Homo sapiens: one gene and its partners. The protein of the gene in region 4 purifies or fractionates together with the protein of the main gene of each other region. This does not show direct contact. Each region holds a gene or a part of one and is shown on either strand. Other genes may lie near its edges.

Evidence for each region.
Region 1: the proteins of MRM3 (region 4) and PMPCB purify together in Homo sapiens (affinity purification with mass spectrometry; 3 studies listed by BioGRID and IntAct, with this or other methods). This does not show direct contact.
Region 2: the proteins of MRM3 (region 4) and CPT2 purify together in Homo sapiens (affinity purification with mass spectrometry; 2 studies listed by BioGRID and IntAct, with this or other methods). This does not show direct contact.
Region 3: the proteins of MRM3 (region 4) and ZNF131 purify together in Homo sapiens (affinity purification with mass spectrometry; 3 studies listed by BioGRID and IntAct, with this or other methods). This does not show direct contact.

Annotation. Positions count from the first base shown.
Region 1 is NC_000007.14:103,293,365-103,300,453, forward strand, and holds the start of PMPCB (mitochondrial-processing peptidase subunit beta isoform 1 precursor), read left to right. Parts: upstream 1-4,070; 5' UTR 4,071-4,095; coding exon 4,096-4,194; intron 4,195-5,203; coding exon 5,204-5,344; intron 5,345-6,078; coding exon 6,079-6,165; intron 6,166-6,813; coding exon 6,814-6,943; intron 6,944-7,089. UniProt on the Homo sapiens protein: Catalytic subunit of the essential mitochondrial processing protease (MPP), which cleaves the mitochondrial sequence off newly imported precursors proteins. Preferentially, cleaves after an arginine at position P2.
Region 2 is NC_000001.11:53,192,687-53,199,823, reverse strand, and holds the start of CPT2 (carnitine O-palmitoyltransferase 2, mitochondrial isoform 1 precursor), read right to left. Parts: upstream 3,001-7,137; 5' UTR 2,881-3,000; coding exon 2,729-2,880; intron 1-2,728. UniProt on the Homo sapiens protein: Involved in the intramitochondrial synthesis of acylcarnitines from accumulated acyl-CoA metabolites.
Region 3 is NC_000005.10:43,158,893-43,165,915, forward strand, and holds part of ZNF131 (zinc finger protein 131), read left to right. Parts: intron 1-2,356; coding exon 2,357-3,039; intron 3,040-7,023. UniProt on the Homo sapiens protein: Plays a role during development and organogenesis as well as in the function of the adult central nervous system. May be involved in transcriptional regulation as a repressor of ESR1/ER-alpha signaling.
Region 4 is NC_000017.11:777,538-785,371, reverse strand, and holds the start of MRM3 (rRNA methyltransferase 3, mitochondrial isoform 1 precursor), read right to left. Parts: upstream 3,020-7,834; 5' UTR 2,994-3,019; coding exon 2,680-2,993; intron 2,290-2,679; coding exon 2,045-2,289; intron 1-2,044. Other genes in the region: GLOD4 (glyoxalase domain-containing protein 4), read left to right, coding at 3,117-3,206, 4,634-4,758, 6,628-6,750. UniProt on the Homo sapiens protein: S-adenosyl-L-methionine-dependent 2'-O-ribose methyltransferase that catalyzes the formation of 2'-O-methylguanosine at position 1370 (Gm1370) in the 16S mitochondrial large subunit ribosomal RNA (mtLSU rRNA), a conserved modification in the peptidyl transferase domain of the mtLSU rRNA.

The DNA of each region.
Region 1 (7,089 bases), on a different chromosome or scaffold from region 4:
ATTGGCTATCATGAGTAAAGCTGCTATGAATATATGTGTAGATGTTTTTGTGTAAACTTCAGTTTTCATCTTTCTGGGATAAATGCCCAGGAGTTCAATTACTGGGTTGTATAATAAGTGGCTGTACTACTCTGGAGTTTTATATTCCCACTAGTAATGTATGAGTGATCTTGTTTTTCTATATCCTTGCCAGCATGTGGTGTTATTGCTGTTTTTCACTTGAGCCATTCTGCTACATGTGTAGCGATAGCTCATCATTTTAATTTGCATTTTGTAATGATTGATGATATTGGACATCTTTTCATGTGCTTATCTGCCATCTGTATTTCTCCTTCAGTGAAATGTCTGTTCATGTCTTTTGCCCATTTTTTTTCACTGTTTTTGAGAGGGTTTTTTTGCATAATTCAGACACAGGTCCTTTGCTGAATATGTGGTTTGCAAATATTTTCTCCCAGTCTGTAGCTTGTCTTTTCATCCTCTTAACAGCATCTTTTTTAGAGCAAAAGCTTTTAATCTTGTTTTTTTTGTTTGTTTGTTTGTTTTGAGATGGAGTTTTCCTCTGTCACCAGGTTGGAGTGCAGTGGCACGATCTCAGCTAACTGCAACCTCTGCCTCTCAGGTTCAAGCGATTCTTTTGCCTCAGCCTCTCAATACCTGGGACTACAGGTGCGTGCCACCATGCCCAGCTAATTTTTGTATTTTTAGTAGAGAAGGGGTTTCACCATGTTGGCCAGGATGGTCTCGATCTCTTGATCTCAGGTGATCTGCCTGTCTTGGCCTCCCAAAGTGTTGGGATTACAGGCGTGAGCCACCGCGCCTGGCTTTAATCTTGTTTTAAGCATTATATTTTTGATATCAGGTCTAAAAACTCCTTGTCTATTCCTATATCCCAAATATTTTATCCTACGTGTTTTTCTAAAAGTTTTATAGTTTTATGTCACATATTTGCATCCATGATTTATTTTGAGTTAATTTTTGTATAAAGTGTGAGGTTTAGGTTCATTGGGAGTTGGGGAGCGGGGAGCCGTGGATATGAACATCTAATTGTTCCAGCAGCATTTGTTGAAATGCTATTCTTCATCTATTGAATTGCCTCTGCACGTTTGCTAAAAATTAGTAGGGCATGTTTGCGTAGGCCTACTTGTGTCTTGAGATAATCACAAAAAAAGTAGAGGAAAATGACAAAGCTTTAAAAAGTTAGAGAGATGCTAATAAATATGAAGGACAGATAAAGTCATTCAGCATAAGGAGAGCTGCAGTCCTTGAAAAGATAACATACTGAATGGAATGCCAGAATATGTATTCAAAGAGACTTTCTCTAAAATGAAGGAAGAAGTGAAACTGCAGAATGAAAACATATTATGTTTTTGAAAATTTTGATAAAAATCACAACACAAAAATTACTCAACATTAAGATATAGCCTAGTTAAGTTACTGAACTTCAAGAATAATTTTTTAGGTTTTTAGGCAGATAAAACAGGTCACATTTAAGGGTGGTAAAAAAAGAAAAAATCTGGCTAGCCTCAGACTTCTCCAAAACATTTAACTCAAGAGCATAATGGAGTAATGTTTATAAAATTCTGAGAAAATGAAACTGTGACCCAACAATATTAAATCCAGACAAAAATGTCATTCAAGTATAAAGATAAAAGCAGACATCCTCAAACATGAAAGAATTAAAGGAATATGACATCCATGATTAAAATTTCCAAACAACAAAAATAGCAATGACTCTGCCAGTAAAATCCAGTCAGTGAAGAAATCATTTAAAATAGGCCAGGTGCAGTGGCTCACGCCTGTAATCCCAGCACTTTGGGAGGCTGAGGCGGGAGGATCACTTGAGGTCAGGAGTTCAAGACCAGCCTGGCCAAACTGGTGAAACCCCGTTTCTACTAAAAGTACAAGAAGTAGCCGGGTGTGGTGGTGGGCACCTGTAATCCCAGCTACTTGGGAGGCTGAGGCAAGGGAATTGCTAGAACCCCGGAGGCGGAGGTTGCAGTGAGCTGAGATTGCACCATTGCACTCCAGCCTGGGCAACAAGAGAGAAACTCCGTCTCAAAAAAAAAAAAAAGAAAAAAAGTTATGGATACTGTTGTGGGTGTAGGGCTATTTTGGGAGTAGTCAAATTCTTTGATTTCTTGGCTCTACTCTGGTGCACTTAATTTCTGTAGGCTTTATGTTCTAAGATATTGACTGTAAATAATGACTAATAAATTAATACCATGAAGTATATTAGAATTGAATACAAATTCTTGCTAAAACTTCCTAGGTGCTTCCTGTGATTATACCTACATGTTTTTGTATATATGTATGCATGTTTGTATTTATTTTTGGTTAACACACATTTGTTTTAGAAACATGAGAGAATAACCTTGGTCGTCCTTTATTACATTACATCATGAGTCTTGTGGACTGAACCTGCGAAGCATAGCAGCCGGGTAGGTGGAGGGAGATGAGTCTGGAAAGATAAATGGGAGTCAGATCATGAAGGGCCCCACCTGCCATGCTAAGGACCCTTTACTTTATTGTGACCAAGGGCTCCCTGATGGATTCTTCATAATGGGACTGCCGTAACAGTTTCATTTGTAAAAGATCCTATAGGTAGTAATGTGAAAAAACTGACAATGGGCCTGGAGTAGATTGAAGAGGCAGGAAAGGGGTGTATCAATTGAATGTGGAAGATGGAAAAAGAGAGGAGCTTCTGGGTGGTTTGGAGTTTTGGGCAAATGTAGGTATGATTGGCTGTTTGGCATTGCAAATATGGGAAGAGATTCAGGGGACACAGTGAATTCCCTTTTGGACAAGTTGATATTGAGTTTCCAATGGGGTATTCAAGTGTAGTTTCCTAGTAGTTGATGGTTAAGTGGGCTGGAGCTCAAGAGAAAGGCCTGGGTTGGGCAGACAGGTCTTGAAGTGGAGGGAAAAACCCAGAGGGAGAATGTTCAGTAGAAGAGGCTTAGAGTCCTGGCAAACACCAACTTTTAGGGCAAAATGTAGTGTTTCACAGCACAGTCTTTGGCGTTAACCTATTACTAGCAGGGTAACCTGGGGCAAGTTATTTGACTTCAGTGTCTTAATTGCAAAATAAGCACTATACCATCTACCTGAGTTAGAAAAGCATTTGCAATTTTTAGTTCCTTGAGAGATCTGTGGGCTGGGCGCAGTGGCTCACGCCTGTAATCCTAGCACTTTGGGAGGTGGAGGTGGGTGGATTACCTGAGGTTAGGAGTTCAAAACCAGCCTGACCAATATGGTGAAACCCCATCTCTACTAAAAATACAAAGTAGCCAGGCGTGGTGGCACATGCCTGTAATCCCAGCTACCTGGGAGGCTGAGGCAGGAGAATTGCTTGAACCCAGGAGGCAGAGGTTGCAGTGAGCTGAGATTGCACCACTGCACTCCAGCCTGGGCAACAAGAGTGAAACTCCATCTCAAAAACAAAAACAAAAACAAAAAACAGATCTGTGAATAAAGAGGAGTCCAAGAAGGTGCAGAGGGAACTATGAGGAGGTGGAGCTCTAGAATATATTGAGAAAAGAGAATTTCAAAGAAGCCAACAATGTCAAATCCTCCAACAGGACTGTAACATAAGTCTGTAAAGTGTCCAACTTTTAGCAATTAGTGACCTTACCAAGGGCAATTTCTATGGAATGAGATGAGCCATATTGTAGAGGTTCGAAGAGTGGATAGTGGTCAACACGGATACATCGTTTCCTCCCCTCACGGCATCTGTCTCTCCCACTAGACTTTTCCTTTAAAGGCAGTGACTTATGAATATTATTCCACTGTTTTCAATCAATTCCATCCACCAGTGAGATATATTGCATCAGGTTACCTTTCATTCCACCGCATTTGTGCCTTGCACTTAGTAGGCGATCGATAAAATAACTGATGATAAAGGGGCTTCTGCAGACTCCCCAATTCATTTGGTAAAGACCGCTCAGCATCATGGTCGGGCCCTGATTGCTTTCACAACCGCTTCGAGGAGTGTCATTCCCATCACGGCCACAAGGTGGAGCCCACCTCCCTGCTCTGGGACCTCAGGTCGCGACCCCGGAAGCACATCCTTCATCCTCTACCTTCCTTCTAGCAGAAATGGCGGCTGCGGCGGCTCGAGTGGTGTTGTCATCCGCGGCGCGGCGGCGGCTCTGGGGTTTCAGCGAGAGTCTTCTAATCCGAGGCGCTGCGGGACGGGTGAGCTTCCCTCCAGGCCGGTCCTGTCCTCGAGATCTCGCCAGACCCGGCGCAGCGCACCTGAGAGTCGGCGCCACAGATCCGAACAGTGGGTCGGGCAGGGCCTCCTCGACCCGGACCCGCCGGGCGCCAGGCGGCCTGGGGCTGCTGAACTGGCCGGGGGTGACTGGCTTGTGGCCACCCGCCAGGAGACCTGCTAGTGACGTGTGGGATGACCCTGGTTTTCGGCTCCTCCCGCCAGCTACTGAGGAGTGCATGTTTGACCACTAAAAACGTAGTGCTTGCAAATTGGGGAAAACTAAAAAGTGAAATGGGTACCGCTCCAGAGTTCTATTTTTGCCTAAGACTGAACTTCGTCCTCAGCTGGGCTTCCCGCGAACCTGGACATCAATGAAGTAAAATTTTTTATGTATTTGCATTTTTCTCATGAGAGAGCCTCTGACTTTAAGCAAAGGGATGTGAGACTTTTGTATAAGGGCAAAGAAAAACTGCTGAAAGGCGAATAGTTTCTGGCCGAAAAGCCAGTCATTTGCATTTTGAACATCGACCCATCTTCCTATCCTCTCTCTCTTTTTTTTTTTAACCATTTCCAAACCCTGTTGCTTTTCTTGAACAATGAAAACCCGAGTGTCAGTTTTGTCTTGTGTGTAGGTAGTTTTACATAGTTTCCCTCTCTTTTTTTTTTTCCTGCTTGTTTTCTCCATAATGAATATAAAACATTTCTAGGAGAGGTAGTGAAATAAAGTCAATTTCTCTCTGGGTAATGATAATAATTGCTCATCTTCCCTGAGGGAAGGGCATGTTTATAAACACGTTGCTGGCTTTAGGACAGTGGCTGGTGACAGATGTTTCTAGGCCAGGCAGAGATCTCAGTGGAACCAAAATTCAAGAAGAAAGATTCTTTTATAGAGACAGCCTATTTAAAATAGATTTGGTTTTAAAAGCAACATTTAATATCAGATTAGTAATGTGTTTTGCTTTGTCTCTTCCACTTCCTACCCCCAACCAGTCATTATATTTTGGAGAGAACAGATTAAGAAGTACACAGGCTGCTACCCAAGTTGTTCTGAATGTTCCTGAAACAAGAGTAACATGTTTAGAAAGTGGACTCAGAGTAGCTTCGGAAGACTCTGGGCTCTCAACATGCACAGTAAGTGACTCAGGCAACCTTCTCTAAGTGACCCTTCATTTAGCGTAGCAAATTGTTGATTTTAATCTTTAGCTTTTTCGTTGGCTGGTGGTTCAAAAAGGGTGACAGTTATTTTGCCTTGACAGATTTCCATGAGTTGTGAACCTTTTCTTCCAGTGGTACTTAGTTACAGGGTGCATATGTATCCTGTTGCATTGTCTGCATCTTGTTCTTGTAGCTTATTATTGATTATTTATTTTCAGTAGTATTGATAATAATGAAAGAAATATGTTTGCAGGGCTACTCTGCCAAGTGTTTTTACTGATGTCTTATTTGATAAAAAGCAATTGTTTGTAGTGGGCATCCTCACACCTGTTTTATAGTTAAGGAAGTGAGAGAAGTTAAATGGTTTTGTTCAGGTAACTCAGCTAATACATGACAGAGCCAGGATTTCAACCGAAGTTTTCTGACAGTCTCTGATGTTCTTGATACTACAGTTATTAATTGGCTGGATTAATGAGTTGGGCAAAGAATCCTCATTGAAGGTGGCAGGTAGATACTTGTAGCACCCAGCAGTATCCTGATCGAAATTTTTAAATCTCATAGTTCACAGGAATGAACTATCAATTCACTCAGGTCAAGAAAATCTTAGTGTTAAGACCAGAAAGCATTTGTCAGAAAAAGGAAGGAGACTGTTCCCCCCAACCTCAAATAAATAAAATGAATTTATTTAATTGTTCTTTGATTGCATTAAGGTTGGACTCTGGATTGATGCTGGAAGTAGATACGAAAATGAGAAGAACAATGGAACAGCACACTTTCTGGAGCATATGGCTTTCAAGGCAAGTTGTAAGACTTTACAAAAATGCACTCTCTTTAAGAGATAATAAGCACAAAGTCTCATTCTTTAGAGGCAGGGAGAGCTCTTTCAGTAGTATAACATGTTTTATGTTTATTTTTCCAGGACAGTATCTAAAATAAGTAGTGATAATTGCTTTGTAAAGCTGAAATGAAAACTTTCTCTTGGGATGCAGGAGTTATCTGAACGTATACCATTTCTGAAGCCTGATGTACCTTATTTTTTTTTATTTAATTTTTTTTGAGATAGGATCTGGCTCTGTTGCCTAGGCTGGAGTGCGGTGACGCAATCTGCTTACTGCAACCTCCGCCTCCTAGGCTCAAGCCATCCTCCCACATTTACTTCTGGAGTAGCTGGGAGTATCTATATATATATATATGTTTGTTTGTTTTTTCATAGAGATAGGGTTTTGCCATGTTGGCCTCGATCTCTTGGGCTCAATCTGCCTGCCTCAGCTTCTCAAAGTGCTGGGGTTACAGGTGTGAGCCATCGTACCATACCTGATGTACTTTAGAAACCAAATTTGACCCTGCATGAAACTAACTTATGTCCTCCATATTCATTATCTGAAGTAGAATAGATGAAGTATAAAGGGAGTTTGCATAATTTGTTTTTCCTCTTTTATTTCAAGGGCACCAAGAAGAGATCCCAGTTAGATCTGGAACTTGAGATTGAAAATATGGGTGCTCATCTCAATGCCTATACCTCCAGAGAGCAGACTGTATACTATGCCAAAGCATTCTCTAAAGACTTGCCAAGAGGTACTGTTATTATTTATACAGCAGATAATGTAATTTTCATGAGAATCAGGAATTATTTAGTACTATTTTTATTATGTCTGTTGTAAAAGAGTAAGTTCCAGAAATGTGAAAAAGCGAAACTGAATTCTGGGTGAGGGTACAGCTGA
Region 2 (7,137 bases), on a different chromosome or scaffold from region 4:
GTGGTTCATCAGTTTATTTGTAATGCATGTTTATCCATAATATGACAAAAATAAATCAATTATTTACTGCCATTATGGACTTAGACTGCACTAAGTACCCATTTACAACACTTTAACACCACAGATCCCCTTACATTCACTGACTTACTCAGAAAAATTCCAAATACTATCTCAGCTACCTCATAATTCCAGTTGCCTACATATGTTTAAGATTTAGTTTTATTACAGTAGGAATATTCATGAAAGTTTACCTTCTTCCTTTTAAACAAAATTCTAGATTAGAGACAATGGCAATTTGATTTAAAAAAGTCCTACTTAAAAATTTCTGGAGTGAAGCTGGGCACGGTGGTTCACACCTGTAATCCCAGCACTTTGGGAGGCCGAGGCAGGCAGATTGCTCGAGTCCAGGAGTTCAAGACCAGCCTGGGCAACATGGCGAAACCCTGTCTCTATAAAAGATACAAAAAATCAGCCAGGCATGATGGTGCATGCCTGTGGTCCCAGATGGGAGGCCAAGAGCAGATCACTTGAGGTCAGGAGATTGAGACCAGCCTGGCCAACATGGTGAAACTCCATCTCTACTAAAAATACAAAAATTAGCTGGGTGTGGTGGCACATGCTTGTAATCCCAGCTACTTGGGAGGCTGAGGCGGGAGGATCCTTTGAACCCGGGAGGCAGAAGTTGCAGTGAGCCGAGATAGGGCCACTGCACTCCAGCCTGGGCAACAGAGCGAGACTGTCTCAAAAAAACCAAAATAAAACTGTGGCTCAATGAAGTGAACAGAATTGCCCCAAATTATAGCTAAAGACTTGCAGATCCAGAATCTGCAACTACATTCTACCAGACCTCAAAGTCAGGGCTTTTCACCAAGTGTGACATCAATGAGTGAGTGTGAAAGATTATACATTTTACCAGTCTAGAATCTGAGCGACAGAAGGAATCTCATCTCTCATCTAACTCCCAATTTACAAATAAGGTAATGGAGGTCTGGGGGAGGTTGGTTGCTTAAGGTTATGCGTAGGTGACTAGTGGTACTATTTGAACTGGAGTTTGAATTGGTACCTCCAGATTCCTACAGACTGTGCTATGGATGGGGTTGGAATAAATAATCTTGAATATTCTTTCCAGCTTTCCAATTCTAAAGTGCAGAAAATCCCTCTGATCTTAAACCTGGGTGGGGCCCAGGCCTGCCTGAAAGTCAGTGACCATCTGACTCTGAACTTGGCAAGTGAAGACAGGTTCTGTCAGTCCTCACCTTTCACCCATATACTGGCTCAGCTCATACACACAGGTTGACAGGGTGGAAGCATGTACCAGGCTTATGCCACAGGCACAAAGCCCCTTTTTCTTCCTCCCTCCTGCCACGTGTAGATAATCTCATTTTCATGTCTTAGATGTTTGCACAAAATGTAATTTCACAAGAATCACTCGATCCTCCTGAGAGGGTGAGGGTATGTAGTGATGACGTTGGGTTAAGTGGTCCCAGATGCAGAGAAAAACAACCCAGCAGCTCGGGTGAGGCCTGTGACACAATGTTCCACACATGGGGAAGAAGCCTGGCCTCTAGCTCTTGGAGTGTGGGGAATCCCTGAGGGCAGTTTGGTGAGAAATAAGGTGAGAAGGGTCTTTGAGACAAATTTTGAACTTGGCTCCAGGAACTGAGTTACTCACTCAGTAAGTTAGAAGTTAGTTTAGGTTTGGTTTAGAGGGTGAAGAAAATTTCTAATATTGAAGAAGGAGATCTGGCAACTCAGACGAAAGCGGAGTTCGAAGGCTGGAAGAACTGGAAGCTGGATTTAAGAAAGTACTGGGGGAGGGAAGGGGAAGAGGATTTACTAGGGCTCTTTTCAGAGGGGAAGTCGATTCTGGGTGAAGTGTTTCGAAGGCAGGGTAGCCAGTGGTGAGGAGGAGAAGAGAAATTTGGGTGGACCCTGGATCTGAGTATGATGGAGTGTGGATGGGGTACTGAGGGTGGTGTCTAGAATTCTGTGAGGGTGAGCTGCACTTACAAGGGGTACTGTGGGTGAGGAAGGATATTTTGAGGGGAGGAACCTGTTGAGGAGGGCTTGGAGAGAGTGAAAGGTTTCCGGGTGAACACTGGATTTAGGAGATTAAAGATTTAAAAACATGGGGGAGGGTCAGTTGAGGACAAGGGTGAACACTTCAGGGCTGTGCTTGTGGGGGCTCATGGGGGGTGAAAGAACAGAGTACTGGAGAAATGGGAGGTGGGGCTGAGGGTCCTGAGTGACAGGGGTGAAGGCGGTGCTGGGAGAAGTTAAGGAATGGTAACCATGATGTATTAGGAATCAGCCTACCCATATTCCGGGTAGGAATGTGAGGCAGTCATTAAAGTACTTCAGGAGACACCATAGTCGAGGGATTACAGCGGCGCTGGAAATATGCAGGTCTGGCATTTTTCAGGGAGAAGAGGACTCAGGATAGCTGGCTGGAAGTTAGGTTAAAGGAGAGGGAATCTGAGAAGCGTTCAAGATGGAGAATCTGAGATAGCATCGAGGGGTTCTGGAAGAGAATTTGAGGGTTCTGAGGTTCCTGTGCTAGGAGATTGTGAAAAGTCCCAAGACTTCCAGATTAGGGGCTGTGGCAGCCTCCATGGTAGGGGCTTGGGGGCGGAAACGGGTTCACTAGAGGAGTCATGAGTGACTGCAGTCAGGTTGGGGCCGATCCTGGGACGGCGGCGGGCGGCGGGGACCCGGAGGCCAGGCTCACCTGGGCAGGCTGTCCTGGTAGTGCATGGTGGGCACGATGCTGCGCTGCAGGTACTGGCCGGGCCCGGAGCCGGCGCTGAGGGGCCGACTGGGGGCTCCCGGACCAACCGCGGGGCCCCGGGGCCAGGCGCGCAGCAGCAGGCGGGGCACCATCGTCCCGGGAGCCTGCGGCGGCGAGAACGCGGCAAGTGGGGAGTTCTGGAGTCTAAACACAAGGCCGCCGCCGCCGTTAGCGCCCAAGACACTGCGTCAGGACTCCTGAGGCACTTCTCCGCCCGCAGGCCACTTCCGGCCCCTGTAAGGCCATCGGCTCCGCCCCGGACTGGCTCCTTCCGGGCAGGGGCCGCTCACTGACAGGCCCCGCCCACTAGTAGGCCCCGCCCGGAAGGGGGCCCCAGCCTCCGCGCTGCTCGTCTCCCTTCCCTTCCCTAGGAGGCGGGAAACCGAGCGCCGCAGCCGCTCCTTCCCCTTTTTTGGAGCAAGACAGAAACTGGAGTTGGAAAAAAAAAAGAAAAGCTAAGAAACGTGATTGGAATCTGATAACCCAAAATTTGATCCAGGCTCCATCCTTGCGAGACTGTGGACTAAATTTTAAACCTCTATTTCCTCACCTAAGAAGTAGATAGATCGTAATGATTCAAAGTACCTCCCAAAATTCTAGATATGAGATAAAGATAACATGTTATGCACAGTGCATGGTGCTTAATAGGAAAGCAGTAAACGGTAACGGATGTTACTGTTGTTAGTAATCCGTGCTGAAGGTCATTGACATATAATGACCCTGAACCCTGCACAGCTACTGCCCTGCCAGCTCACCTGAGTGGATGGATATTAGAAAGGATTTGTGCAGGAGTTGGAAACCTGGAGTTTCCCGCTGGCCACCACTTCAGTGCAGAAAGCCCCTTCCGAGCGGAATCCCCTCTGCCTGAACATCCATTCTTGGCTTGAGCATTTCCAAAAACAAGAAGCTCACTGCTAAGAGGAAAGAAACCCTTGTCCTCCGGCTCTAGGAAGTCTTCCGTGTTCAGTCTATTGGAAGAGGCTTCCTGTCACCACAGACCACCTCCAAGATTCCTTCCAACTCCTGACTCTAAGATTCCGCTACTTGAACATAGATCTATCATCCCTCATCCATCACAAAACAGCTGCAGAACAGCCCACCACGCCCCAATCCCTGATCTTAGAAGTAGCTGCAGGATTAAGTAGGCTCTACTCCCATTTTACAGAAGAAGACAGGGAGTTACCAAAAGACACACAATTATGCTGCCTAGCTTGAGGCACAACAGAATTCCATTTTGGGAACAGAACTGCCCTTTAGCCGTTTGGGGCAGCCAAGTACATTCTGTCTGTTCCATAATTGGCTAAGCAGAGCCAGAAGCTGGAGCACACCAGAAAGAGTACTGGATTGGGAGTCAGGAGACCGGACTTTTAGTTTCAGCTCTTTGTTATCTAGTTAGGTGACCTCGGATTGAACAGGAAGATCACTAACCAGCTCTGGCACTCATTCAGTGGTGATCACAAATGCTTAACCCATTTCCCGTTTAGAAAAAAACAGCGCAGCTTGCTGCCAGCTCTTATTTCTTAGGGCAAATGGGAAATGGCTTAAGAACTAAGCATGAAATTCAGAAACACTGAATATCGAATCCTCCTCTCTTGAGGGGAGAAAAGGCCCAACTGGCCCAACTCCAAAACATCGGTGCCATTTGCCTGTAGTGTATAAGGCCAGAGGGAGAATATAAAACTCTTTCTGAAAATGAGCCATCTCCTCTAAATCCTGATCATTTTCAGAGCCTTGATACCCGAGGCAAATATCGAGATCTGTGTAGTGCTAAGGGGATCAGAGGACCAGGAAGAAATAGTGGGCCCAGTAGAAAAGCAGCGGCTCTATTCTAGAGACAGAGGGCCAAAAGATTGAGCCCATCCAATCTAACAGCCAAAAGAGGGACGTGAACACCTTTGGTGAGTGCATGGCCAATGGGAGCAACTCTAAGCCTTTAGGCTGGTGTCCAAGGCCTTCTGAATTCTGACCCCTACCTACTTCTCCAGCTCCCATCATGTCACCCCAAAATACTCTATGCCAGGGGTGTCCAATCTTTTGACTTCCCTGAGCCACACTGGAAGAAGAATTGTCTTGGGCCACACATAAAATACACTAATACTAATGATAGCTAATAAGCAAAAACAAAACAAAATTGTAAAAATATCTCATATTTTAATAAAGTTTACTAATTTGTGTTGGCCTCATTCAAAGCCATCCTGAGCTGTGGGTTGGACAAGCTTGCTCTATGCTGTAGTAACACTGAACCACTTCTCATTCCCATCCTTTTCCTTACTCTGCGACTTATTTATTTATTTATTTTAGCTGTCTCTGCTGCCTGGAATGTTCTTTCCATGCATCTCTGCCTAGTAAACTCTTACTTGTCCTTCAAACCCTATTTCAAAACTCACCTCTTTGAAGTCTTCCTCAATCCTCATCCTTCTTCCTCACTGCAAGAATGAATCCCTCCCACTGTGATTTTACAGCACTTTTTACATTCATTTACAGTTATGTACATGAAACACAACTGTATTAGGGCTTTTAAAATAATCAGCTATTTAATTACCAATTCATCTCTCACAATAAATTTTGAGGTCTTTGGGCAGGGACCTTGTTTCCACTGTGTGTCCACTGTGTCTAGCACAGGCCTACTGTGGGGAGGTGCTTTGCTTCCTTTTCCTGGGGATGGCCCTGGGGTCTGGATCACATTAAGAATAACCATGAGCTGGTAGTCCAAAAAGTCCATATATTGCTGTGTAAGGGTCAAGAAAGTTCCTCTACTTAGAGAAAGATCCTGAAGAATACATTGTTTCTATTGAACTAATCCCCAGAGTTCTGCTCTGTTTTGAATTAACTATGAAAAAGCAGTACATGATGGCCAGGTTAAAGTCATATTCATCTTCAAAATCAAAGTTCTGAAAAACAATGAACTTTAACTGGCTAGCAGTAGAGTTCACATTTCAACAAAAAAGAGGTCCAGTTGGGTAAGTATGACCAAAGAAAACAAATGTGACCACCCAAATATTCAAAGAAATGTCAGGAACTAGTACCTAGAGTTGGCCTGGCAGTCCCAAGTTCTCAGGTTCTATTGGAGCTTACCTGGACTAAACAGTGCTTGAAATGAGGAAATTCATAGGCAAGACCTTGAAAAGCCCTGCCTATTTAATGGGATTTGTTAAAATGAACTCTAACCCTTTTATAAATATTGAGTATGTGAGAAAGTATTTAAATGCAAAAAAGTGAAACCAGAGTATTAAAAAAATGCTCTCTCTGCCCCATAAAGGAACTTTTAAAACATACCTGTGGACACATTAGATATTGTAACTAAACCAATCAATGAGAAATTCATGGTATGTGGGAAAAAAATCTGTTCCTTTTAACTTTACAAGGAATCTGATGTTTCGTTTTTGAAGCATTGCTCAGAACTGCTGGAGAAAAAGAATCGATGTACAGAGCATGAAGAACTTATTGCATGAGGGTCTACGGGGAGTGACAAATACAGTGTACTTTTGAAGGATCCAGAGGACCAAATTTATGCATCTCAAACATGGTCCTGGTCATCTGGGCTGGCAGGTTTCTGGGCTCCTGGTTCCAAGGATGCAATGGAGAATGGGGGTTGGGGAGGAGGTAGAGACTTGACCCATAGCTAACATCTTCTGGGGAAGGGCCCTAGAGCAGGAAGGCCCTTGCCCCTCTCTGGCCCCTCTGGCAATAGATTCCTGACTTCTGTTGCACTCCTGTATGCATTTAGCTCTTCTGAAGTGAGGAAGGCTAAGCTCAACTCCAGCACCCTCCAACTGTCACCATTTTCACTGTGGATTTTTCTTGTGGAGGTAGGCCTCACCCACCTAAAGCCCCAAGCCAGTAGCCAGGTAGAAGAAGGGAGGACAACTTTTAAACTCTAAAATAACAGCCTGGTCCAGCTCCTAGGTGCAATGGGATTATTGTAAAAGACCAGTTTCCAGTGGAAAGTGGAACTTTGCTTCCTCACTGGGTCCTTAGGTTCCAGTTTTCTTTATGCCCCTTTGCCAATTTCATTGAAGGAAAGAACTTTAATGGGGCTGTGTGTGTGTGTGTGTGTGTGTGTGTGTGTGTGTGTGTTCTGGGTTAGTGAAAATGTCACCAAATTCAGCAACATAGAAACCCCAGTCAAAAAAATTTAAGATTGTAGAAGAAATGGACAAATGATGACAAAAGGAGCTGAAATCAAGAGTTTGGTATTTTAGCTAGGCACAGTCCTAGCTACTTGGGAGGCTAAGGCAGGAGGATAGCTTGAGCCCAGGAGGATCCCTCAAATTTGAGGCTGCAGTGAGTGAGCTATGATCATGCTCCTCTAGCCTGGGTGACAGAGTGAGACCCCATCACACACACAC
Region 3 (7,023 bases), on a different chromosome or scaffold from region 4:
CAAGAGCTATGAGATTTTACTCTACTTGCAAGCCTACAAGTTTTCCTGCCACAGTGTCATGGATGCTGGAAGAAGATAGAAGACTTCTGAGTCAGAAAGAAAGGACCTTATTACTCTCTACATAGCAAGCAGTATAAATTTCATTTTTATACCAGTTTTCCCTTCCCCTCAAGTCCCACAAGAGTGACATAGAGTGGCCCAGGTGAATGCATAAGATTGATTTATATTATAGCTGAAGAATCTCCAGCTTAGGAATCTCAAAATTTTTATAGTGGGCTACAAACAAACCTGCCTAACGTTTTTTCCAGAGTGGGGGCATTCTCTTTATTATATTGGACAATAAACCTGCCCTTTCATCTACTATACTATACTGCAAACATCCAAACCGAAAGTTTTCAGTTCACAAGATGTGAGGAAACTGAAGAGACTCAAGGAGAATTGTCTCCCAACAGGTGTCGTCTTTTACTGAGTTTACTGAGTTGTGAGAATCCTTTCTTCACTCTAGATATAAGATCTTTAGGCTGGGCACAGTGGCTCTTACCGGTAATTCCAGCACTTTGGGAGGCCGAGGTGGGCAGATCACCTGAGGTCAGTAGTTCAAGACCACCCTGGCCAACATGGTGAGACCCCGTCTCTACTAAAAAATACAAAAATTAGGCGGGCATGGTGGCAGGAGCCTGTAATCCCAGCTACTCAGGAGGCTGAGGCAGGAGAATCACTTGAACCCGGGAGGCAGAGGTTGCAGTGAGCCAAGATCGTGCCACTGCACTCCAGCCTGGGCCACAAGAGAGATACTCTGTCTCAAAAAAAAAAAAAAAAAACCAAACAAAAAATTTGACAGATAAATGTTTGCAACTATTTTCTTCTGGCCTGTGGCTTGCTTTTTTATTAACTGTATTTCAGAGGGCAGTTTTTAATTTTGATGAAATCTATTTTATCAATTTTTGCTGTTATGATTTCTGCCTTTCTTATGCTGTTTAAGAAATCTTTCAGCTGGGCAGGCTGGGCGCGGTGGCCCACGCCTGTAATCCCAGCACTTTGGGGGAGGCCAAGGCGGGCAGATCACAAGGTCAGGAAATCGAGACCATCCTGGCTAACACGGTGAAACCCCATCTCTACTAAAAATACAAAATATTAGCTGGTCGTGGTGGCGGGCGCCTGTAGTCCCAGCTGCTTGGGAGGCTGAGGCAGGAGAATGGCGTGAACCTGGGAGGCGGAGCTTACAGTGAGCCAAGATCACGCCACTGCACTCCAGCCTGGGTGACAGAGCGAGACTCCATCTCAAAAAAACAAAACAAAAAAAAAAACAAAAAAAGAAGAAATCTGTCAGCTGGGCACAGTAGCTCATGTCTGTAATCCTAGTACTCTGGGAGGCCGAGGCAGGAGGATCACTTGAGCCCAGGAGTTCAAGACCACCCTGGGTGACATAGTGAGACCTCGATTCTATCAAAAATAAAATTAGCTGAGTGTGATGGCACGCATCTATAGTCCCAGCTGCTTGAGAGGCTGAGGTGGGAGGATCACTTGAGCCCAAGAGGTTGAAGCCACAGTGAGCCAACATCACACCACTGCACTCCAGCCTGGGTGAGAGAATGAGAAATCTTTCACTAACCAATGTCACTAAGGTCTTCTCCTGTTTTCTTCTAGAAATTTACTAATTCTTAAATTTAGGTCTGTGACCCATTTTGAATTAATTTTTCATGTATGATATGAGGTAAAGGTTGAGGCTTATTTTTCCCATACACATAATTGTTCTAGCATCACTGTTAAATGATTAGCTTGGAACTTTTTTTTTTTTTTTTTTTTTTGAGACAGAGTTTCGCTCTTGTCGCCCAGGCTGGAGTGCAATGGTGCGATCTTGGCTCACCCCAACCTCCGCCTCCTGGGTTCAAGTGATTCTCCTGCCTCAGCCTGCCGAGTAGCTGGGATTACAGGCATGCCACCATGCCCAGCTAATTTTGTATTTTTAGTAGAGACGAGATTTCCCCATGTTAGTCAGGCTGGTCTCAAACTCCCAACCTCAGGTGATCCACCTGCCTTGGCCTCCCAAAGTGTTGCGATTACAGGCATGAGCCACTGCACCTGACTGGCACCTTTTTTTCCCCCATAAAAATCAGTTGACTAAGCGTGGGTCTATTTCCATGGACTTTATTCCATTAATCTTCGTGTCTATGCTTTCACCAGTACTATTGTCTTAATTACTGTAGCTTTAAGTCTTGAAATCAGGTAGGATAAGCCCTGCAGTCTTGTTTTATAACTGTTTATATAAATTTTATTGCCACTTTATCAGTTTCTTCAAAAAAGCCTGGTAGGATCTTCTTATAGATTTTTTAAACCCCTACATTATGTATTTCAGGAACAAAGAAAACTCAGCTCCCTTAGAGGAAAATACCACAGGAAAAAATGAGGCCAAAAAAAGGAAGATTGCAGAAACTTCAAATGTTATCACTGAGTCATTGCCATCTGCAGAATCAGAACCTGTTGAAATTGAGGTAGAGATTGCCGAAGGCACCATTGAAGTGGAAGATGAAGGCATCGAAACATTAGAGGAAGTGGCTTCTGCCAAGCAGTCCGTAAAGTACATACAGAGCACAGGTTCCTCTGATGATTCTGCTCTAGCACTGTTGGCAGATATTACCAGCAAGTACCGTCAAGGTGACAGAAAAGGGCAGATTAAAGAAGATGGCTGTCCATCTGACCCCACGAGCAAACAGGTAGAAGGTATTGAAATTGTGGAACTTCAGCTGTCACATGTGAAGGACTTGTTCCATTGTGAGAAATGTAACCGTTCATTTAAATTGTTTTACCATTTTAAGGAGCACATGAAATCACACTCCACTGAGAGTTTCAAGTGTGAAATATGCAATAAACGATATCTTCGAGAGAGCGCATGGAAACAGCACCTAAATTGTTACCACCTTGAAGAAGGTGGAGTCAGTAAGAAGCAAAGAACTGGGAAAAAAATTCATGTATGTCAGTACTGTGAGAAACAGTTTGACCATTTTGGACATTTTAAAGAACATCTTCGAAAACATACAGGTAATGAGCAAATACTTTGTTAAAATTTTTTTTTCCCACATGCACTTCAAATTTAAGTATCTAAATCCTTTTTAAAAAAATAGTGCCTCAGAAGCCATCTCATGTATTATCTCTAATGTGTAGGCTAAGTACACGTTTTTATAGTATTACCTGTTCAAATATTGGTGCTTTAAATGCAAATCAGTATCAACTTTGGAAGTAATTGTTACTTTTATGCCTTGCCCAATTTTTATATTTTTCAAAGAAATAGAGAAAATAGTTTGTGACTTATTTCCTAAAGATCGTAAATAATTAAATCTTATAGTGAGACTTTACCATTTCTATTTTTACATTTCTTGTGTCGTGTTACTTACAGTACATTTACAAGCAATCCCTGACAGCCAGGCGCGGTGGCTCATGCCTGTAATCCCAGCACTTTGGGAGGCCGAGGCAGGCGGATCACCTGAGGTCAGGTGTTCGAGACCAGCCTGGCCAACATGGTGAAACCTCATCTCTACTAAAAATACAAAAATTAGCCAGGCGTGGTGGTGGGCACTCATAGTCCCAGCTACTCTGGAGGCTGAGGCAGGGGAATTGCTTGAACCCGGGAGGCAGAGGTTGCAGTGAGCCGAGATCATGCCACTGCACTCCAGCCTGGTCAATAGAGTGAGACTCCATCTTAAAAAAAAAAAAAAGAAAAGAAAAAAAAGCGGCCAGGCGCGGTGGCTCACGCCTGTAATCCCAACACTTTGGGAGGCCGAGGCGGGTGGATATCTGAGGTCAGGAGTTCAGAGACCAGCCTGACCAACATTGTGAAACCCCGTCTCTACTAAAAATACAAAAAATTAGTTGGGCATGGTGGCAGGCACCTGTAATCCCAGCTACTTGGGAGGCTGAGGCCGGAGAATTGCTTGAACCCGGGAGGCAGAGGTTGCCATGAGCCAAGATCACGCCATTGTACTCCAGCCTGGGCAACAAGGGCAAAACTCTGTCTCAAGGGAAAAAAAAAAAAAAAAAAGCAATCCCTGACATGTTTATACTTCTTTTCTTTTATTTGCCTTTTTTTTTTTTTTTTTTGGCAGATGGAGTCTCGCTCTGTTGCCCAGGCTGGAGTGCAGTGGCACGATCTTGGCTCACTGTAACCTCCGCCTCCCGGGTTCAAGCGATTCTTCTGCCTCAGCCTCCTGAGTAAGCTGGGACTACAGGCGAGCACCACCACGCCCCTGGCTAATTTTTGTATTTTTAGTAGAGACGGGGTTTCACCATATTGGTCAGGCCAGGGTGGTCTCAAACTCCTGACCTCGTGATCCGCTAGCCTCGGCCTCCCAAAGTGCTGGGATTACAGGCATGAGCCACCACATCCGGCCCATGTTTATACTTTTTAATGTACATTGAGTTACCTGCTTTGGCACAGTAGGTTAGTAGGCAGTATATGTTCATCTCTCTCCACCTTTTCAACAGCAAATATGTCAGGCCTGGCGGACATCCAGGGAGCTGAGGAGAATAAGGTCTTTATACTTCTCCTGGGAGCCATGCAGGCATGATGGAAATGTCCTGAGAAATCTACCTCAGGGCCTCGCCCCACATAGTTCTTCATCCCCTATTCCAGTCGTCTCCCTGTCAAGAGTCCCTGACCTTGCTCAGGTTTCTTGCTTGCTCCCACTCCCCGAACAACCTTTGCTGGGTCTCCTACACCAGACACAGTAGCTACCACCAACGAATTGAATCTTGGATAGTTCCTAAACCTACTATTACAAGGGTATGGAGAGAGCAGTTAATACAGCATGCTAAGTATTAGACTTCTGGACATTTGTTCCCAAGTCTTTGTTATATGTGGTGGTTAAGGCTGTTTAGACTGTTAATACAGTAAATACAACATAGATAGCCTACAGTATTCAGAATCTTTCTCTTTGATGCTGGAGTTTGGAGAGCTTCTGGTAAAAGTTTTTTAAAATAGGTTTGTCACTGTCAGTTGGTATACATCACTTGAAATTAAGGAACCACATAGATTCAGATGATGTTATCCCCCTCACTGTCCAAACTTACTGTCAGTATTCGAGGACTGAGTAAATACAGGAATAGCAAAGGGATCTTGTACTTAAGGCTCAGTATGGATTTAAAAGTCTTTAAGGTACTTAGTTTGGATAACTAATAGGCGTTTATGAAATCTTTTGGGAAAATGCTTTCTGATTGCAAACATGTATATATACAGTCTACTTTTGAACAACGTGGGTTTGAACTGCTTGCATCCACTTACATGCAGATTTCATTCAACTAAATATGGATCAAAATTATAGTATTCCCAGGATGCAAAACCCATGTATGTAGAAGACCAACTTTTAGTATGTGTGGTTCCACAGGGCCGGCTGCAGGACTTGAGTGTGCGTGGATTTTGCTATACGAACCAATCCCCCGCATATACCAAGGGACGCCTACCTGTTTTATATAATATTTGGAAACTGCCTACAGTTACAATTTTTGGTCCTTAGAAAACGAATAATAGTCTGTTGGTGAACATTTTTGTGGTAATTGGGTTAATTATGCAAAATGATTGTTGTTATACCAGCAGCACAATAAACAAACATTGGTAAGTAACTTGCAAACTTTGATAGCAGTTTCCAATACCCCAGCAGATAATCAGGATAATCAGTAGCTTTTATAGCCTATGAATGTGAAAGTAGCCGCAGTTACCTCTTTTACCCAAAACATTGCCTACTGACTTTTACCTCTTAGAAAATAGGACAACACGGACCACTTTGGACATCTTTAAATGTGCCTCTCAGGTCTTAGATTTTTTATTTTGGTTTGGACAGCAGAATATAGGGTTAAAGTACATTATGTTGTATGTCTTTGTCTTTCCCTTAGAAATGATGTGAGATAAGTAATTTAAGTAGTTGTTATAAATTACTGAACCATATACCCATTGGAGGAACAGTTGAGCACATAAAGCAAACCGAACCCCCACTTCATTGTTTTTTAACTTCAACCAATTTCTATACTGGTAATTAGTTCCAAGATAGTTGTTGTTCTCTTCTCTCCTCTCCTCTCTCTCTCCTTTGAAACAGGGTCTTGCTGTGTTGCCCAGGCTGGAGTACAGTGGCGCGATCATGGCTCACTGCAGTCTCGACCTCCTGGGCTCAAGTGATCCTTCTACCTCAGCTTCCTGAGTAGCTGGGACTACAGATGTGTGCCACCATGCCCAGCTAATTTTTCTGTTTTTTGTAGAGATGTGGTTTCACCACGTTGCCTAGGCTTGGAACATAGGCATGAGCCACCATGCTTGGCCCTGTATTTCTTTTTTTTTTTTTTTTAGCTTTAACAACAGGAATTCATTTTCTCGCAGTTCTAGAGGTTAGAAGTCCAAGATCAATCTGCTGGTTTCTTTTGAGACCTCTCTCTTTGGCTTGCAGATGGCTAACCTGTGTCCTTACATGGTTTTATCCTCTTTGTGCATGCATCTCTGGTGTGGCCTTGTATTTCTTAATAAGACTGGAAAGTCAAAATTACTTCTTGATCTGTGGGCTGCAGAATGGCTGTTGTGTTTGCAGACTGAAAACAATATTAATCTCCTTGTACCTCTCCCTCTGAACTCTTGGGTGACCAGCTGCATTGTCAGTGAGCAGTAGTATTTTGAAAGGAGTCTTCTGAGCAGTAGGTTTCAACATTGGGCTTAAAATAGTCAATAAACCATGCTGTAAACAGATGTTCTGTCAACCAAACTTTGTTCTTCCGTTTCTGTAGCCCAGGCAGAGTACATGTAATAAGATTCTTAGGGACCCTAGGATTTTTGGAGTGATAAATGACTGATTGGCTTTAACTTAAAGTCACCAGCTGCATTAGCTCCCAACAAGAAAGTTATCTGTCCTTTAAAGCTTTGAAGCCAGTCATTGACTTCTCCCTAACTATGAAAGTCCTAGATGGCATCTTCCAGTACAAGGCTGTTTTGTCTACATTGAATATCTGTTGTTGAGTGTAGCCACCTTCATCAGTGATCTTAACTAGGTA
Region 4 (7,834 bases):
AAAGTTTTATGGAAAGAATTTATGGGAAAAGAGAAAAATTGGAAAAAGGCTAATAACAATATTAAAAATGGCTTTGAGTACATGAAATTGCTGTGGTATAGATGAAGTTATTCACATGGGTGTATCACATATCCACAAGTTTCTTTTTGAATCACCATGTTTACTGGTAGAGGTGATAATGATAACCTTTTAGTAAGCTTTTTTTTTTAAGCCAAGCACTACCCTAAACTCTTTATGTATAATTATCAAATATTCAATCCCTTTGTAGTCTGCTCCCAAGGGACTGTACAGTTTTTTTGAATCTTACTAGTATTTTGTCGTATATGATTGCTACAATAAATGGGCTACTGACTGAAGTCAGGAGATGAATGAAATAGTACTTGTACTGAAACATGATACAATCAAAGATTTAGGATTCTTTCTAAAAGATGGTGCAGGTAAAAAGCCTATCCACCACTGAAGGCAATGGAAGGGTATTAGGCGTCTGTGTGCTGTGAGAGAGCCTCCACTTCGGAGTCACAGATGGCCAAAAGCCATTCAGTAGGGCTGAGGACCTTAGAAGTCCTTTACTTCTACTTGGATGTCTGTGGTGATGAGAACCCACTATACGGAGGCCCTACTTATGTCGCTGGATTCTGGGGAGTGTCTGTCTAAAGCCTGACAGGTGCTGCCAGTTCCTATCCATTTCTCCCTTATTCCCTGCCCTCAAATCTAAAATATAGTAACATAAGGATAAGCCAGGAAATGATGAAAGCAGGTATGATGATGAAGTTCAAGATGGGTTGGCCACTGTAAGCACACCTGCCCCAAGTGACAAGCACAAGTTCAAGATGGGCTGGCCACTGTGAGCACACCTGCCCCAAGTGACAAGCACAAGTTCAAGATGGGCTGGCCACTGTGAGCACACCTGCCCCAAGTGACAAGCACGGTAAAAATGAATAACACTTTCACTGAAGCATGGCGTGTGGATTAGAGGGCTGTAGCTAGTGAGAATATGGTTACTTAGCATGAGTAATTCTAGGTACTTTAGTAATCCAAGTCCCCATCCTAGGATCTAAGAGCTCTGAGTGCAGAGGCACAGATCCCTGTGACTCACTGGGTTACAGAGACAAGAGATGGTTCCCCAGAATCTCCTCTCTCAGCAGTTCAAGGATTCAGTTTTCATATCTTAAAACTCCCATGTCAAAAACGTATGAAAAACTTATCTTCTCATATTTAGACCAAAGACTTTGTAACTGCTAATCAACATCGGAGTTACATAAGGTTAAGTCAGATTCAGCCAAATGAAGGAACAGACTAGAAGACAAGGTTCTCTGTTTATTGGGCTAAACGGGGCAGTAAATTGTGGCTTGTACCTCGCTTCTTAGATCTGCTTCTGGAATAAGCAGTTTATTGACAGTTATCACCACATTGGCAGAGGTTTTGCAAAAATGAAGGGCTCAATCTTTCAGTAAACGCTTTCTTAATTTTTAATCTGACATAGAAAGTTGAAGAAGTAATCTAAAAAATAGAAGGTTTGAGGAATAGTGGTTCTTCCTAGAGACCATAAAGAGCCACAACACAAATGATAGTGAAAAACGGGTTTCAATTTCCATTGAAAATACTCTAAGATACACAGGTTTGAGAATTATATTTTTCTAATTGTAACATTTTGAATTTCATTTCAATGCTGCTGTCCTAAGACAAGTATGAGAAATTAATCCTAGGTCTCCACACCTTAAGATACACTGTGTAAGGCCAGGCATGGTGGCTCACGCCTGTAATCCCAGCACTTTGGGAGGCCGAGGCAGGAGGATCACCTGAGGTCACAAGTTCGACGTCAGCCTGGCCAACATGGTGAAACCCCACCTCTACTAAAAATACAAAAATCACCCGGGCATGGTGGCAGACGCCTGTAATCCCAGCTACTGCGGAGGCTGAGGCAAGAGAATCCCTTGAACCCGAGAGGCGGAGGTTGCAGTGGGCCGAGATCGCGCCATTGCACTCCAGCCTGGGTGACAGAACAAGACAAAAAAAAAAAAAGATACACTGGGTAATCACTAACCCATTATTCCTTGTGGCGTTACGAGGTCGGACCAATCCTTGATATCCTCAAATTTCACCTTAATGAGGCTGACACCTTTCAGCTTATCGACTGGCAACTCCTTTAGGTATTCTAGACGGCTAAAGAAGAACATTTTTGGCACAGCTCCAGCCTTGAGAGCGTCTGAAATGAGCCTGCGACCTTCCAGCAGGATCTTCCCTTGTTTTTCCCGAAATGGCCTGGACTTTACTATTGTCATTACACTGCTGTAGATGGAAATAAAAAAAAAAAACAGGTAACTATCAACATCCTTGTTACTGAGACACGCTTAGTTGTAACAGAAATAAAGAGCTACGGAGAGGGCCGGGCGCGGTGGCTCACGCCTGTAATCCCAGCACATTGGGAGGCCGAGGCGGGCGGATCACCTGAGGTCAGGAGTTCCAGATCAGCCTGGCTAACATGGTGAAACAAAAACAACAACAAAGAGCTAAGGAGAAACAGAAGCTAATTCCAAAGACGCTTATTCGGCCCTCTGTGCATAATACAAAAACCAGCGGGCTGTACTGGAAGAAGTCCTCCATCGGAAGGAGGTTAAGGTTCCGCTGTGCGACGGGAAGGGAAACGAGAACATTCGACAGGCTCAAGAACCACATCACCTCAGCCTCCTGTCCCCGGGATAAGCTTTATCGTAGCGAAGCCCAGACTCTTCCCAGGTGCTGGGAGCGCGGGATGCGGACTCCTCGAGCGGTTGTTTCTCTCGTTGCTCCTGGGCACTGGCCTCAGATGGTGCCTTGCGGGGCTGCTTCCCAGGAGCGCGCTTCTGTTCCACCACCTCTCCGGAAGGAAACACCACTTTCACTGGGCTCCGCCGCAGCGCCCGGACCCAGCGCCTCGCGTCAAGGTCCCAAGCCTGGACCACCTGCAGCAACGGTCGCACGACAAACCTCGCGGGTCTCACCAGCGCCGCCATGTTCCCTGAGACCCGGGCTGCGTCACGAAAGCGCGCCGTCGGCGGCTAGTGACGTCACGGCCCGTGGCGCCCTTCGTGGACTGGGCTGTACGGTGCGCGTGACGGCTGCGTGCGGCGGGAATCATGGCTGCTCGCAGAGCTCTGCACTTCGTATTCAAAGTGGGAAACCGCTTCCAGACGGCGCGTTTCTATCGGGACGTCCTGGGGATGAAGGTGCAGGCCGGGGCCGACAGGGGCTGGCGCGCGAGGCTGGAACCGGCGCCCGAGCCGGCCCTGGCGGAGGGAGGGGAAAATGGGTGTGTCGTGAACCTAAGCCGGAGGGTGTCCGACCTTAGGCCCTGCGCGGTGTTCAGCTTCAGGAGCGTGGCGAGTTGCCGTTGGGGATCATAGGCCTTGGAGAAGGGCCTAACACGATTAGTCCCCGCGGTGTGCCCACGCACGTCCTTTCATTTAAGCCACTCGTAAACGTTTATTGAGCCCCGCCCTTGTGGAGCTTACCGTCTACCGGAAAAGACGGTAAATAAAATGTTATATAATGCTTTCTAGTTAATATTTGTGTTTTCCGGTTTGGAGCCTTTGATGTAGATAAAATCAGCGTATTCAGAGTTCTGCTTCTAGCAAGGCTGGTCTGAATAGTCCGTTTCGGATACTCAGTCTCTGAATATATGCTCCAACTCTCAACCCATCTGCTTTTCAACAGCACCCAGAAGCGGTCTGTCTCGGGTCCTGAGGAGCTGTTATTTGCAGGATTCAGTTGGTTGGGGAACTGGGTTTTGGGGACCTCCTTTGATAAGCCAGGGAGGTAGGGAACACACCACTAAGGAAGACTTGAAAGGTGCAAGAGCGCGGTTTAGTGTATAGACGGTGCAATAGACGGGGATCTGAATTCGTCAGGTCATTTTTAAAATATCTGCTATTTTCAGGGTACTACGTTGAGTTTTGGCAACAAAGGTGCAAATGACCCTGATATATATCCTCCATTAGAGCTCATGGCCTGGGTTGGGGTGGGAGTTGGAACTGGATTTGTACGTAGATGATGGTAATGGAAGTCAGAATTTGATAGTGAAAAACCACCAAACTTTCGATAGCAGAAACCACAGAGCTGTCCCTTGTTAGTATTTCCTCGTCGATCAAAAGGTTGTTGCAAAGATTAAACACGTGCCGGCGCGGTGGCCCACGCCTGTAATCTCAGCACTTTGGGAGGCCAAGGCGGGTGGATCACTGGAGGTCAGGAGTTGGACACCAGCCTGGCCAACATGGTGAAACCCTGTCTCTACTAAAAATACAAAAATTAGCCGGGCATGGTGGCACACGCCTGTAATCCCAGCTACTCGGGAGGCTGAGGCAAGAGAATCGCCTGTATCTGGGAGGCGGAGGTTGCAGTGAGCCGAGATCGCACCATTGTGTTCCAGCCTGGATGACGAAAGCAAAACTCCGTCTCAAAAAAAAAAAAAAAAAAAAGATTCAACACCTTATTATATGTATAGTATTTAACATATCGGTAATAGTAGATTATATAAGTGTTAGCCACTATTATAAAAATACAAAAGAAGGAGCGGTTTTCCAACCTGGGTGATGAGGAAATAATTCATGTAGACCTTGTATTCGAGTTGACTTTTTTTTTTTTTTTTTTTTTTGAGGTGGAGTCTTGCTCTGTCGCCAGGCTGGAGTGCAGTGGCGCGATCTCGGCTCACTGTAAGCTCAGCCTCCCGGGTTCACACCATTCTCCTGCCTCAGCCTCCCGAGTAGCTGGGACCACAGGCGCGTACCACAACACCCGGCTAATTTTTAAAAATATTTTTAGTAGAGACGGGGTTTCACCGTGTTAGCCAGGATTCGAGTTGACGTCTAAAGATAGGATATCCACAGGTAGATGAGAGGAGGAGCTACATAGTAAAACTGAAGAGCCAGTGCGGAGATGGCACATGTTTGCGAAGCCGCTGGTTTTATGTGCCTTTAGTTGAGGTTGCTTAGTTGAAGTTAAGGAGATGGGATATCAGGATGGACAGGTCGGCATTGCTTCTAATAGTATCTTGAATGCTATGCTAAAGAATTTGGATTTTATGCTGCAGTAAGATGGGAGCTCACTTATGTTCTTAAACAGGGTGGTGATGGGATCAGTGCTTTGTGCTTTAGGCATGTGCTTTTTTGGTGTTATTAAGGAAGGATATCAATAAGGATTTTTTTATTTTTTATTTTTTATTTTTTTTATGTTGAGACGGAGTCTCGCTCTTTCGCCCAGGCTGGAGTGCAGTGGCGCAATCTCGGCTCACTGCAAGCTCCGCCTCCTGGGTTCACACCATTCTCCTGCCTCAGCCTCCCGAGTAGCTGGTACTACAGGCGCCCGCCACCACGCCCTGCTTATTTTTTGTATTTTTAGTAGAGATGGGGTTTTACTGTGTTAGCCAGGATGGTCTCGATCTCCTGACCTCATGATCCACCCACCTCGGCCTCCCAAAGTGCTGGGATTACAGGCGTGAGCCACCGCGCCCGGCCAATAAGGATGATTTTTAATAGTCTGAGCGAAGCGTTGGGAACTTCAACTGGCAGGAGCCGTGGGAATCAAAAAGGAGGGCTAAAGCTAACACGTTGAGAGCCCGCTGTGTGCAGGGTTCTGTGAGATGCTTTCATAACATCCATTCCCATCACATGTTAGGAGACTGAGACTCAGATTCTAATTTGCTCAGAGTTACACAACTACTAAATGACAGAATTCCAAATCAGACTTTTTTTTTTTTTTGAGTTTGAGTTTTGCTCTTGTCACCCAGGCTGGAGTGTAATGGTGCAATCTCAGCTCATTGCAACCTCTGCCTCCCGTGTTCAAGCAATTCTCCTACCTCAGCCTCCTGAGTAGCTGGGATTACAAGCGCCCACCACCATGCCTGGCTAATTTTGTATTTTTTATATTTTTAGTAGAGATGGGGTTTCACTGTGTTGGCTAGGCTGGTCTCGAACTCCCGACCTCAGGTGATCTGCCCACCTCAGCCTCCCAAAGTGCTGGGATTACAGGCGTGAGCCACGATGCCCATCTTTTTTTTTTTTTTTTTTTTTTTTTTTTTAATTTGAGATGGAATTTTGCTCTTGTCACCCAGGCTGTAGTGCAGGGGCACGATCTCGGCTCACTGCAACCTCCATCTCATGGTCCAAGTGATTCTCCTGCCTCAACCTCCTGAGTAGCTGGGATCACAAGCACACGCCACCACGCCTGGCTAATTTTTGTATTTTTAGTTGAGACGGGGTTTCACTATGTTTGCCAGGTTGATCTTGAACTCCTGACCTCAGGCAGTCCACCCACCTTGATCTCCCAAAGTGCTGGTATTATAGGCGTGAGTCACTGTGCCCGGCCCAAATCAGACTTCTTTAATGCTGAAGGCCACACTTTTTCCCACTGCATAGCACTGCTTACCAATCTAAATAGATTTCACAACTGATTTGGTAGCCTGACCCTTGGTGTCAAGCTGTTCGTCCTTCCACTGCTTCTATCCTGGGAGAAGTGTAAAGCTCATTTGCTTTTGTTCTTTTACAAGTAAAGCTTATAAATGATAATGTTTGTGTTTTGACATTTTAGTCTGTGCTAAAGACGCTGTGAGCAGTACTAGCAACACTTCACAATTTATTCTAAATCTCACACCAGGTTCTGCGGCATGAGGAATTTGAAGAAGGCTGCAAAGCTGCCTGTAATGGGTATGATACCTTGTTTCTTAAAATCTCCTTTAGGCTCTGACTACACCCGGATAACAGAAGACAGTTTCTCAAAGTGAGTATAAAGCAGTGGAATTAATTAAGGAGGCAGTAAATTAGGGAGGCAACTTCAGGAGCGTCGGGAACACATACTGTTTCTCTGCACTCTCATGAGTATAAAGCAGTGGAATTAATTAAGAAGGCAGTAAATTAGGGAGGCAACTTCAGGAGCGTCGGGAACACATTTCTCTGCACTCTCATACAACACCTGTGGGACACAAAGGGATTCTCCAGCTCTCTAACACCAGCCGGCTGTCCTGTTATTTAATTGATTCTGACTCTACCTGGAGTTAATGTCAGATCCTGCAAGTTAAGGGCTCAGTCCCAGAAGATTTTCCGCCACGTCAGGCGCCGGTCACAGTCTGGATCTTCAGGATTTCCGATGACCAACTACAAGTCAGGGCTCCCGCTCCTGCTTCCTTGGGTTTGATAGTCTGCTACAGTGGCTCATGGAACTAAGGGAAACGCTGGAAACACTTACTTACATTTACTGGTTTATCATAAAGAGTACGAGTCAGAAATGGCTGGACAGAGGAGATACACAGGGCAGGGCATGGGGAGTGGGTGGCAGAGCTTCCATGCTCTTCTGGGCAGGCTCCAATCCAGCACCTCCCTACGTTCAGCATCCCAGAAGCTCATGAGTCTCATTGTTCAAGCCTAATAGAGCCCAGTCTCCATCCCTTTCCTTCCCAGAGGTTGGTGGATGGGACTGAAAGTTCAGTCCTCTAATCATTTGTCTTTCTGGTGACCAGCCCCATCCTGAGTCTATGTAGAGGCCCCACTCTAAGTCACTTCATTAGCATAAACTCAGGTGTGACTGAAAGGGGCTCATTATGAATATAACAAAAGATATTCCTATCAGGAAATTCCAGAGGTTTTGGGAGCTCTGAGACAGGAACCAGGGACAATGACCAGATATGTTTCATATTATGCCACAAATGCAAATAAGTACATGCTCTAGATGAAGCAGCGGCTTTCCAGTATCTTTTTTTTTTTGAGACAGAATCTCACTTTGTCACCCAGGTGGGAGTGCGGGGTCATTATCCTGGCTCACTGCAACCTCTGTCTTCTGAGTTCAAGCAATTCTCCTCCCTCAGCCT